Linked DNA regions of Homo sapiens: region 1 is reported to be linked to region 2. The links are microRNA targets in miRTarBase. Many come from high-throughput screens and were not tested one by one. Region 2 holds a microRNA gene; the other region holds the end of a gene's coding sequence.
What was found. Region 2 holds the annotated microRNA hsa-miR-6720-5p (UUCCAGCCCUGGUAGGCGCCGCG, at 1,611-1,633, shown strand). A microRNA usually pairs through its seed, bases 2 to 8, with sites in the 3' UTR of a target mRNA and lowers its output. Matches are read on the target gene's strand: a 7mer-m8 pairs with bases 2 to 8, a 7mer-A1 pairs with bases 2 to 7 and ends in A, and an 8mer does both.

Region 1: miRTarBase lists SSH2 as a target of hsa-miR-6720-5p. The part of its 3' UTR that is shown has no 7-base or 8-base seed match.

The regions. Positions count from the first base shown.
Region 1 is chr17:29,626,562-29,631,561 of GRCh38, reverse strand. SSH2 (slingshot protein phosphatase 2) reads left to right here. Exons shown (of 16, transcript NM_001282129.2): 16 at 1-5,000. The coding sequence ends at 721. Among named protein-coding and RNA genes, the nearest start is that of CORO6, 6.2 kb to the right of the region's middle.
Region 2 is chr6:1,386,815-1,391,991 of GRCh38, reverse strand. MIR6720 (microRNA 6720) reads left to right here and starts at 1,581; the gene lies at 1,581-1,678. It overlaps FOXF2 (forkhead box F2), which reads right to left and starts at 2,416. Exons shown (of 2, transcript NM_001452.2): 1 at 874-2,416. The coding sequence starts at 2,044. FOXF2-DT (FOXF2 divergent transcript) reads left to right here and starts at 2,531. Exons shown (of 3, transcript NR_187218.1): 1 at 2,531-2,973. RefSeq lists an enhancer at 369-1,234.

The DNA of each region.
Region 1 (5,000 bases), not on the chromosome of region 2:
AGACCTAAGTTTAATTAGCAAACTTGGTGACAACACTGGGGAGTTACAGGAGAAAATGGACCCATTGCCTGTAGCCTGTCGACTCCCACATAGCTCTAGTAGTGAAAACATAAAGAGTCTCAGCCACAGCCCCGGTGTGGTGAAGGAGCGTGCTAAAGAAATCGAGTCTCGAGTGGTTTTCCAGGCAGGGCTCACCAAACCATCCCAAATGAGGCGCTCAGCTTCTCTCGCCAAATTAGGTTACTTGGACCTCTGTAAAGACTGCTTACCAGAGAGGGAGCCTGCCTCCTGTGAATCCCCTCATCTCAAACTGCTTCAGCCTTTCCTCAGAACAGACTCAGGCATGCACGCGATGGAGGACCAAGAGTCCCTAGAAAACCCAGGTGCCCCCCACAACCCAGAGCCCACCAAGTCTTTTGTAGAACAACTCACAACAACAGAGTGTATTGTGCAGAGCAAGCCAGTGGAGAGGCCCCTTGTGCAGTATGCCAAAGAATTTGGTTCTAGTCAGCAGTATTTGCTCCCCAGGGCAGGACTTGAATTGACTAGTTCTGAAGGAGGCCTTCCCGTGCTACAGACCCAGGGACTGCAGTGTGCATGCCCAGCTCCAGGGCTGGCCGTGGCACCCCGTCAGCAACACGGCAGAACTCACCCCCTTAGGAGACTGAAAAAGGCAAATGACAAAAAACGGACAACCAACCCCTTCTATAATACCATGTGATTCTGAGCCTACACATGTGACTTTCTAGAAGAAATGTTTGTAAAAGGGGCAGGTGTAATATGTAAGGAACATGCACTTTATTGGTTAATTTTATAATATTTTGGTCATTTTACTGTTTCTGGTGCATGCAGGGTTTGGGTGTTTTTCAGTGTGTATGTGTGTGTATATGTAAGGGGAAAGAGAGATTGATCTGGATGGCAAGACCGTTTATCATTTTTTATTTAAAAAAATCAAACCTCAAAAAAGTCATTTTCAGAGAACACCTTTATCAAAGGCAAATTGCTGTTTTTCAGTCAGCTGCCACCTGCTTCTCATTTTGCCCTCTGAGAAAAGGCATGGTTTCTTAATTGAGGGAAGGAAGCAGATTCGGAGGGGTGGAGATAAAGCTGGGGATTGGAGATGTTCCCCTGCCTTTGTGATGATGGTTTGGTTTCCAGACCTGAGGCATCGAATGGGCTAAAGGTCAGCCAGAAGTCAGAGGGCTCTCAGCCTTCATCCAGCCGCAGCCCTTTAGAGTTCCTGAAGGAGGCAGGTTCCGCTTTGCTTTAAAAGAGGGTCTTCCGGTGTTCCAGAGTGTATCGTTACAGTAAGACATGATAATGGCCGGCTCTGCAAATTTATCATATAGTTTTTTTCCCAAGAAAATTATTTTTGAAATTAAAACAGGACCCCAAATGAAATCCAAGTGGTCTTCTGTAGAGGAAAGCATGATAAGAGGAGGAAGACATAAAGTTGGGGGTGGAGAGGCTGCTGCCCAGAAACTGCTGGGTTGGTGGGATCCACACAGATGGGCATCTTGGCTCTCCCTGCCAGAAAAATGTGCTCTGCAGTGTCCTCCCAACTGAAAACAACAGTGACATGTTTGAAAAGCAGCAATCGAAAGTCAGTGTGTTCTTGTAAAATGAATATGTATGTAGGGTTTTAACCCTTCCATTACTTGAATAATTCTTTGGGCCTTCTGAGTTTAATGGCCATATTTTCTTCCAGTTTATTTTCCTTCCCCATGCTGTTGTCCCCATGCTGCCTATTTTTTTAAATTTCATAGATTATATTTGAATTGTTACATATGTTTAACATCCATTGAATGCAACGTTTTATTTTTGGTATTATCACTGTTAACACTTTTTTTTCCTTTTCCTGGAAGGTTTGTCATTTCTCTAAAGTTTGTACACAGTATTTATGTACATAATATTGTCACTGTCTTAGTGTCTTGTTCATGTTGTAGGGTAATTTTGATTTATTCTTTTTAAGAAGGAGTAGAGTTGCAACTGGAAAACACAGACACCAGAAATGAAAGTGTTGGGTGTTGATAGGAATCTGTACAATATGTTGATGGTGGCTGTAGTTGTTTAAATGGAGACTTCCAATCACCAGCTCCTGCCAAATTATGCATTAGTAACTTTTTCCTCAGAGACACCCCTAAAGGCTCCCATTAGGTCACAGCGTGACTGAAAGCTGATTTCTCTGTGAGACTGAAATCCCAGAACATTGTTTGCCAGTATCTCAACCACAGCCAGGAAGTATATGTGAGTTGCCCAGAGTGGAAGCTCCTAGTAGAGGCTGAAGGCCACAGGGGAGGCCTCAGCCAGGGGCAAGTGCCCACAGTGACTCCATTTAGGATGCTGTCGTTTTGCTACTGTTGTGGAGATCCTTAACGCAGCAGCGCCTGTCATAAACAAGCCTCTTGTAGCTTCTTACAGAAAACAGATTTAGTCTAGCATGAAACACCTCTGCATCTCATTGAAACTGAAGAGGCTTGCAGATTTGCTTTCGTTGATGTCCACGTTACTGAGGATTGACTGAGTATAGACTGGAGACAGGTTTTTGGCTTATCACAGCACTGAGGAAAATACAAATGCACAGACTGTCAGCATGATGTCAGAGGCCAGAGTTTGGTGGGGGCAGATGGCAGGGCGACCCAAAAGATGCAGAAAAGGTAGACTGGGGCCACTGGGTCTTAAGAGGAGCTGTGAAGTTGTGTGGAAGCCAAGGCTGGGTCTGACATCCCTGCCAGGAAGCAGGTTGGACAGAAACCACTTGCTAAAAGCGTCTCTATGGTGCAGTGATTATGTGTACCCTGTGCTGTTGCTCAGTAGTCTCCTTGAATGTTCAAGTATCTCATCCACTCAGTTTTGTGATTCCTGGATATTTGTGTGTTGTAAAGTGTTTTGTTAGGTGGTATGAACCAATGTGAGGAGGCTTGAGACAGGGTTATGGATTTCCAGAGCTCTTCCATGTAGAATACCCTGCCTTCTTGAAGCAGTTCCACCACCAATATGATGGGGAAGGGCAGGAACTTATGGCAGGGTGGGGAGAGGGTTTGCCTGGAAGTTAAGAGAGTGGCATCCACTTGTGGTAACCCCTTACGATGATGACATCCCACACACTAAGAGGTACAAGCAGGACCAAAGTTTTGGACTGTTCCCTCTTCTCCCCTCCACTGTGTTTAATGTTCACTCACTGCATTAAATAACAACAAAGATGGGACAAAACCCACTAATACTGTGGGGAAAAAAAATTTTCAAGAGCAGAGGAAAGTCTTTCTGCCTTTTTATAATTACTTTTTTTATCATTTAATTTACCTGCCTAAATAAACATCTTCTACAGAATATCTGTCATTCAACCATGCCAAGGAGTTTGTGCCAGCCTTTTCAGACTCCCAGAATTGGGTGTTCCTGGGTTATTTACATAGCTGAGCAGTGTCCAGGGGAGGTGCGCAGTGAACTGTCAAGGACTTTCCAGACTGTCTTCTCTTCAGACTTTTATAATCTCCAGTGGCATCTTTCCCTTTTCTTTTGTTCATGACCTGACCTGAAGCAGCAGATTTGATAGACTGGCAAAGATGAATAGGAAAAACTTTGACTCTTGCCCAGTGCCTGCCTGCCTCTCTCTCTCTCCTCTCTCTCTCTCTCTTTTTAAACCACCATAGACTCTCACTTATTTTGGAGGAGTGTATGTGCATGTGTACACATATGTACATATATAAAAACAGTTGATGTTTTGGTGTATGGGGTAAAAGCCCCAGGAGCATACAGAACTTGAGCTGAACCTGGTCAGTAGAAAGGGAAACCCCAACCCTTTCTTGATTTTTGGAGACACCCAGGACTAATGGATACTGTAGTAGACATGTAGTACTATAGTACCGTAATATTCATCTCTCCTCATTTTAGTTGCCTTTCAGATTCTAAATGTTTGGGATCATTCCTATCATCTTAGTCTCTTCAGGATCTTTAGTATTTTCCTGGTTCTGAGGAGGCTTGAGACAGGGTTATGGATTTCCTTGTTCTGTGTCTTTATCCCTACTGATAGTTCCTCTTTCTCATTTTGCAAACTACCCAGAGCTCCAAGGACAGCCTGAAGATCTCAGTGCCTCAGGCTCTGAGGTACTCTGCTCACAGGCCCCAGACAGATGCTGTTGGGTAAACTCAAAGCTTCCTATGAGAAGCTTCTGAGATGTAGCAGGTCACAGAAGTGTTCACCTGTTTCATCTGAGGATTTCAGTTCTGAAGTGATCTAGGCATGTTTGGTAAAAATGTTTTTGTGAGAGTTCTTTTTTTAAGAAAGCATTATGCAAAAAGTCACTTTTAAGGGCATTTAAAAATTTTTAAGTAAAGCCATTCTTTGGCTTTTTTGGACTATTTGTGGATACTTTGTTTACATTTTGAATATTAAAATGTGCATCATCTTGTCGGCCATGCAGTCCTGCAGGCATCAGTGCCCTGGCTGTCCTGTGAGTCCTCATGCAGAGCAGGGCCATCATGGTCAGCCCTTGTGAGTAAGTGGGTATACGCTGAAGCTGACTTCCGTCTGTGTCCTGCCCTCCCATCCAGCACTCTCTATGGAAATAGTTGTCATTTCCTCAGTGATGGTGTGTCTTATAGTGATGGTTGTAATGGTGAATGGCTAGTGTCATTTTGTTTAATTTTGTTTTGCTTTTTGATGGTGGATAAGATGAAATTTTAGCTGTTTCAGCATCAATCCAACTTAAAAGCATCTTGGACTTTGTTTTCCCTTCCAAACTAAAAGATCAAGGCATGTATTAGACACAAGCATATTTGCTGCCTCAACTCCTCTGACACCCATATTAGGAAAAGGCCTGCCACCAAAGCAGGAAGCTGCACACTCCTAACCCTTCTCCCAGGGTGTGGGGTCCCTTGACGTCATGAAGAGCTATTGCAAGGTGCTTCTGTACTTTTCCAGCCTGGAAATGGAGGGTGACTGGCCCTGGCTCCTGCTATGAGAAGATAACCAGCCTCATTTTCTCAGTGCCCCAGAGGTC
Region 2 (5,177 bases):
TATCTCTGTTCTTCACATTAACCTGGTCAAATATTCAAATTCCCTCTTCCATCCCTACCGTCCCCTCCCACCTTTCACCGCCTTCAGCAAGTCAATAATTTTTCATAATCTGCAACCAGAACAATGTAAACCAGCCACACTACAAGTGGCATCCACAGGGCAGGCGCATTTCTCAGGGGAGTCCTAGCAGGGTCCTTCAGGTCCTGCCACCCAGGACCTGTATCATCAATGTGGGTCCATTGTTGGGCGGGGGGGGAGGCAGGGAAGGGGAGGAGTCTCCAACAGTTTGGTGACCCCCTCCACTGGCAAATGTCCCTTTAGTGAAAGATCCTGGGATCCAGCTCTGTCCCTCCCACCCCCTCCTCTTAACACTTGCCCAGCTGCAAACATCTCGCTGCAGACACCCCAACATACAGAACATATCTGATTCTGACATTTACTTCGGGACAGAAGTACAGCAAAATGAACGCAAGGAAAAAAAGGGACAAAAGGAACTAGACACAGCTTCCTGACCAAGTTCCCCAAAGGCCAGATGCCTTCTCTCCAAGCTAAGTGAGACTCTGAACGGGAGACCTGCAGTCTCCTGCACAGGGATCCCCAAAGAGCCCAGGAAGGCAGGGGACTTTACACCACGCTCACAGCAGCCAGACAATTCTGAAGCTTCGGCTGCTGGCCAGGGATACTGGGAGGACAGTAAGACCCTGATCCCTGCTCCCACGAATAAGATGCCGGCTTTCCCCAGCATCTGCTTTTCCCAGTGCCCTCAGACCTCCTAGCTTCGGGGTCCCTGTTTGTGGGAGTGGCAGTGGCCGCCAGCCCTGGAGGCCTAGAAGCGGTGCGCCCAGCTGGCTGGGCTGGAGCGTGCTGCGTTACCTGAGAGGTCCTCGCGAGCGTTCTGGTGCAAGTAGCTCTGCTCCAGCGAGTAGGAGGACATGCTGGAGTGCAGGCCTGCCGAGGCGGCGGGGTTGCTGCTGGGCGTCAGGGCAGGCGGCTGCTTGAGGTAAGGCGAGGCGCCAGGCGAGCTCCAGTGCGCCGCAGGGCTCGTGTAGGGCGAGTGGCATTCGATGGCGCTCGCCATGGCCGGGGACGAGGGTACCGGGCTGCTGCTGCTGTCCGGCCCGTAGTCGCCGCCGCCGCCGCCCCCGGCCGCACCGACGCCCCCGGGTCCCGCGGGCACCGGGCAGCTGGCCATGTAGGTGGAACCCGGGTTGGGCGACATGTGCGGGACGTGGTGGTGGTGGTGGTGGTGAGGGTGCGCGTGGCTGGGGGCGCCCGCGCCGGCGTCGTAGCCCGCGGGCATCATGTCGAGGCCGCCGTAGCCGCCCTGGCTGTGGCAGCCGAGCGGCGCCGACGGGGGCGCCTGGAAGTCGAAGCCCTGGGGCAGCAGCGACGCCCCGAAGCCCAAGCCGCTCACCACGCGGTGGTACATGGGCTTGAGCGCCTGGCACTTCCGCCTGAAGCCGCGCGGCCGGCGGCGGAACGAGCCCTCCTCGAACATGAACTCGCTGGCCGGGTCGATGGTCCAGTAGTGGCCCTTGCCGGGCCGCCCGAGGCCCTTAGGCAGCTTGATGAAGCACTCGTTGAGCGAGAGATTGTGGCGCACCGAGTTCTTCCAGCCCTGGTAGGCGCCGCGGAAGAAGGGGAAGCGCGCCTGCAGGAACTGGTAGATCTCGCTGAGCGTCAGGCGCTTGCTGGGCGAGCTCTGGATGGCCATGACGATGAGCGCGATGTACGAGTAGGGCGGCTTCTCGGGCCGCCGCAGCCCCGAGCTCGCCTTCTTGGCGCCCCCGCTCCCGGCGCCCGCGCCGCCGCCGCCCGCGCTCTTGCAGGCAGCCGAGGGGGCGCTGGCCGAATTGGAGGAGGACGAGGACGAGGCGCAGGAGGCGGAGGACGACGACGAGGAGGAGGAGGTGGTCTCCGGGGCGGCGGCGGCGGCGGCGGCGGCGGCGGGCGGCGGGCTCATCAGGGCGGCCTGGAGCGCGCCGGGGACCGGGCTGCACGCGCGGCGGAGCGGGGCCGGCGGCGGCCCGCCCTCGGTGGTCATCTGGGACCCGGGAGCGAGGCCGGGCCGCGAGGGCGGGCCCCGGGCGGGAAGCGGAGGCGCCGGAGCGGGGTCGGCCCAGAAGCCCTGCGAGCGCCCTAGCCCGCCGCCCGGGCTGCAGCCGTGGCCACTCCGGGCCAGCGCTTCGGCGTCGCCTCCCTCAGCTCCTCTGGGGCTTCTGGCGGCGGCGGCGGCGGCGGGCGGGAGGCAACGCCCGGCGCATCCCTCCCCGAGCCGCGGGCCCTGCCTTGCGCAACGGCCTCCCAGGCCGCGGGGCCGAGCGGCCGGCGCCGGGCGACTGCGCCCGCGAGTGGGACCGCGGCCTGGACCCCGGGGACGAGCCCGACGTCTCCCTTCAGGAGCGCTCCTCGCTCTGTCTCTCGGACTTCCTCCCTCCCTCGCCCTCCCCGGCCGCCCTCCTCGCTCCCTCCCTCCCTCCCTCCCCCCCCACCCCGCCCTGCCCCCTCCTCGCTCCGCGCCGCCGCGCTCACTCCTCCCCCTCCCGACCTGGCGGCCGCCTCCCTCTCTTATCTCGCTCCCCGCTCTCCAGGGTCTCCTCGCTCTTCATTCCTCTCGCGGCCTCCTCCCCTTTCCCTCACTCACCCTCTTTCCAATTGAGGGATCACAGACTCACTCCGGTTCTGCCAGGGGGACGACCCCCACCCCTCGCAAAACTCGACCACCTCTGACTTCATGAAATATTCTTTCTGTTTGCCCCCCGCAGCAAGCCCCGCGTCCCATCCCAGGACCCAGCCCCGCCCCTCCGCGCCCCCTTCCTCCTCCTGGCCCGCCGGGCCGAGTGGTGCTGCTGCGGGTGCGGCTGCTCGGAGCCTCCCTGGCCGCCCTCCCCAGGGCCGATACTGACTCCATCTGTCAACTTCGTTTAGACTTTGCCGCCCTCAGCCACACGCCGGGGTGCCAGACGCCCAAAGGTAACGTGCCAATCCTCTCTCTTTCTGGCAGGGCCTGCAGGCTCCCCGACAATTGTTAGGGCGACTGGGGGCCGCCGCAGGGTTGCGGGCCGCTGGCGATCGTGGACGTTTTCGGAACTTTGAGCAGAGGGATTTACACTGAGAAACCTAGGCCAAGTTTCAAAGACTCTGGAAACCTGGATCTCATGGGACTTAGGGTTGCATTTGCTTCCACTTCTTCCCCCCACCCCCGCACCCCAGTTAGTGTTCTGTAAGAAAAAAGTGCAAAAGAAAAAGGAAGGAAGGAAGAAAAGAAAGAAAGAGAAAGAAAAAGAAAGACCCTGAGATAAGCGAGATGGCTATATTTATAGTCAGTCCTGAAGGGGTGTGCAGCTGTCACTAGGTTTACATCCTCCGTCTTAACATTGCCCACCCAAAACTGTGCCAGGTCTCAGCTAACTCCTGTCCGAGAACACTTCTCCCCAGTTGTGGCTAATTCCTCCCTAAGTAAGAGTCAGGCTCTGAGAGAGATGTGCCCTCGGGAGCAATCACTTCCAATGAGACCCGACAGTTAGTTATTGGATTACACGTGCAGGGAAATGTAGTCCGACCAGGGATAGGAGCTGGGAGAGGGAGGAGGAGAGCAGGAGGCCGGAGCTGGCGGGGCCTCCCAAGGGCTGAAGGGGGAGGCCCAGAAAGAAGGTGCTGCAGACCAGCGGACCAAACAGGAGGTAGAGCTGGGCACCCCGCTGCGTCTAGGCTGAAAGGACCGAGGTGCACGGGTGTGCCTGCTGGGGAGCCTGGGGAGTTGCAGGAGGCAGGAGAAAGGGAGGTTGTGCAGTAATCAGGAGGAAGACACCAGGCAAAGAGCCTTCACAGCCGCACAGCCTAGGCAGGCCCCCTGGGGCGGCAGGAGCCCTGTGTGCCCCTGGAGTGCCGGGGGACTGCTCCTGGCTGAGTGTGCTGGTGGGGCTGTAGATGCAGAGAGGGCGGGTGGGGAGGGGAGGGGTATGTGGGAGGGGGGTGGGCCGGGGCTGGCCCCAGACAGTGACCTGAGGTTGAGTGGAAGCAGGCTTTTTCCATCAAACCCTGCCTGGATACCACACACAGAGACCGAGTGTCAGTTTACTGCCCTGAGCCGGCTCCTTCTCCCTAAGCTCCACAGTAATTAGACAAAGAAAACCTAAATTAGCTGAACAGGCGTCGACAGCTTCCTCCAGAGCACCCCTGGTACCTACATGGGAATGTGTCCGAAAATGGCTTGATTGTAGCCGAGAGTCAGCTAAGAAAACACCGCCAAACCGAACTCAGTTTACCACTCATTTCCAATAGAAAAAAGAAACAAGTCGCTCTTTTCCGGGTGGGATGTTTTGATTGGGTTGGGGTAGGGCTTCGCAGTTGTTTCCACTTTCTAAGAATTTCTGACTGACTGCTGAGCGTTTTTGGGGGGTGCGTCCCCATATATTTCATGGTATTTTTTTCTCTTGCCCTCATTTGTCATTTTGTGTGGAATAACTTAAAAATACATAACTAAATATGAAAGTAAATATAATGTGTTCACTAAACCAATGCTCTAAGTGCCTAAAATATAATTATTTTCATAAAATAGAAGCTGGAGTGGGGAGGACAGATAGGATCTTAAAGGAGCTCTACTGACATAGAGTTCAGTGTGTGTGTGTGTGTGTGTGTGTGTGTGTGTGTGCTTTAAATGGAAAGAGCCCAGGGGAGAAGCTTGTGGGGGAAAAGGACAATTATCTCATTTGTAGGTGGGGGCGGTGGGCAACGGGCTTTGGAAACATTCAGTACTCATTGTCACTTAGCCATGGACTCTCTCTGATTCTCTGTGCCTGAAAATTATATGTATTTGGATCTCAGGGAATACAGATCCAACTTGTTAAGAGCAGGCCTTAAAAGGTTTTAGGACCCGGAGACTGAAGAATAAAAGGCGCTAACCTTAAAATCCAGGCAGGACCAGTGATAACCTTCTATACTAGTAGCTCCCAGTTTTGGGGTTATGGGGTCATCCTCTGAGAATACGATGGAAGCTATGGAGCCAGTTTCCAGAAAAATACTTCCAACTTGCCTGAGATTTTAGGAAGTCCACAGGTACTCATTAAAACAAACAAGGAAACAAGCAAAAAACCCCAGATTCTTTTAGCTTCTACCAATTCAGCTGGTTAAATTATGAGGGATTTTTTTAAAAGGCTCCTTTCTCCATCCAAGCA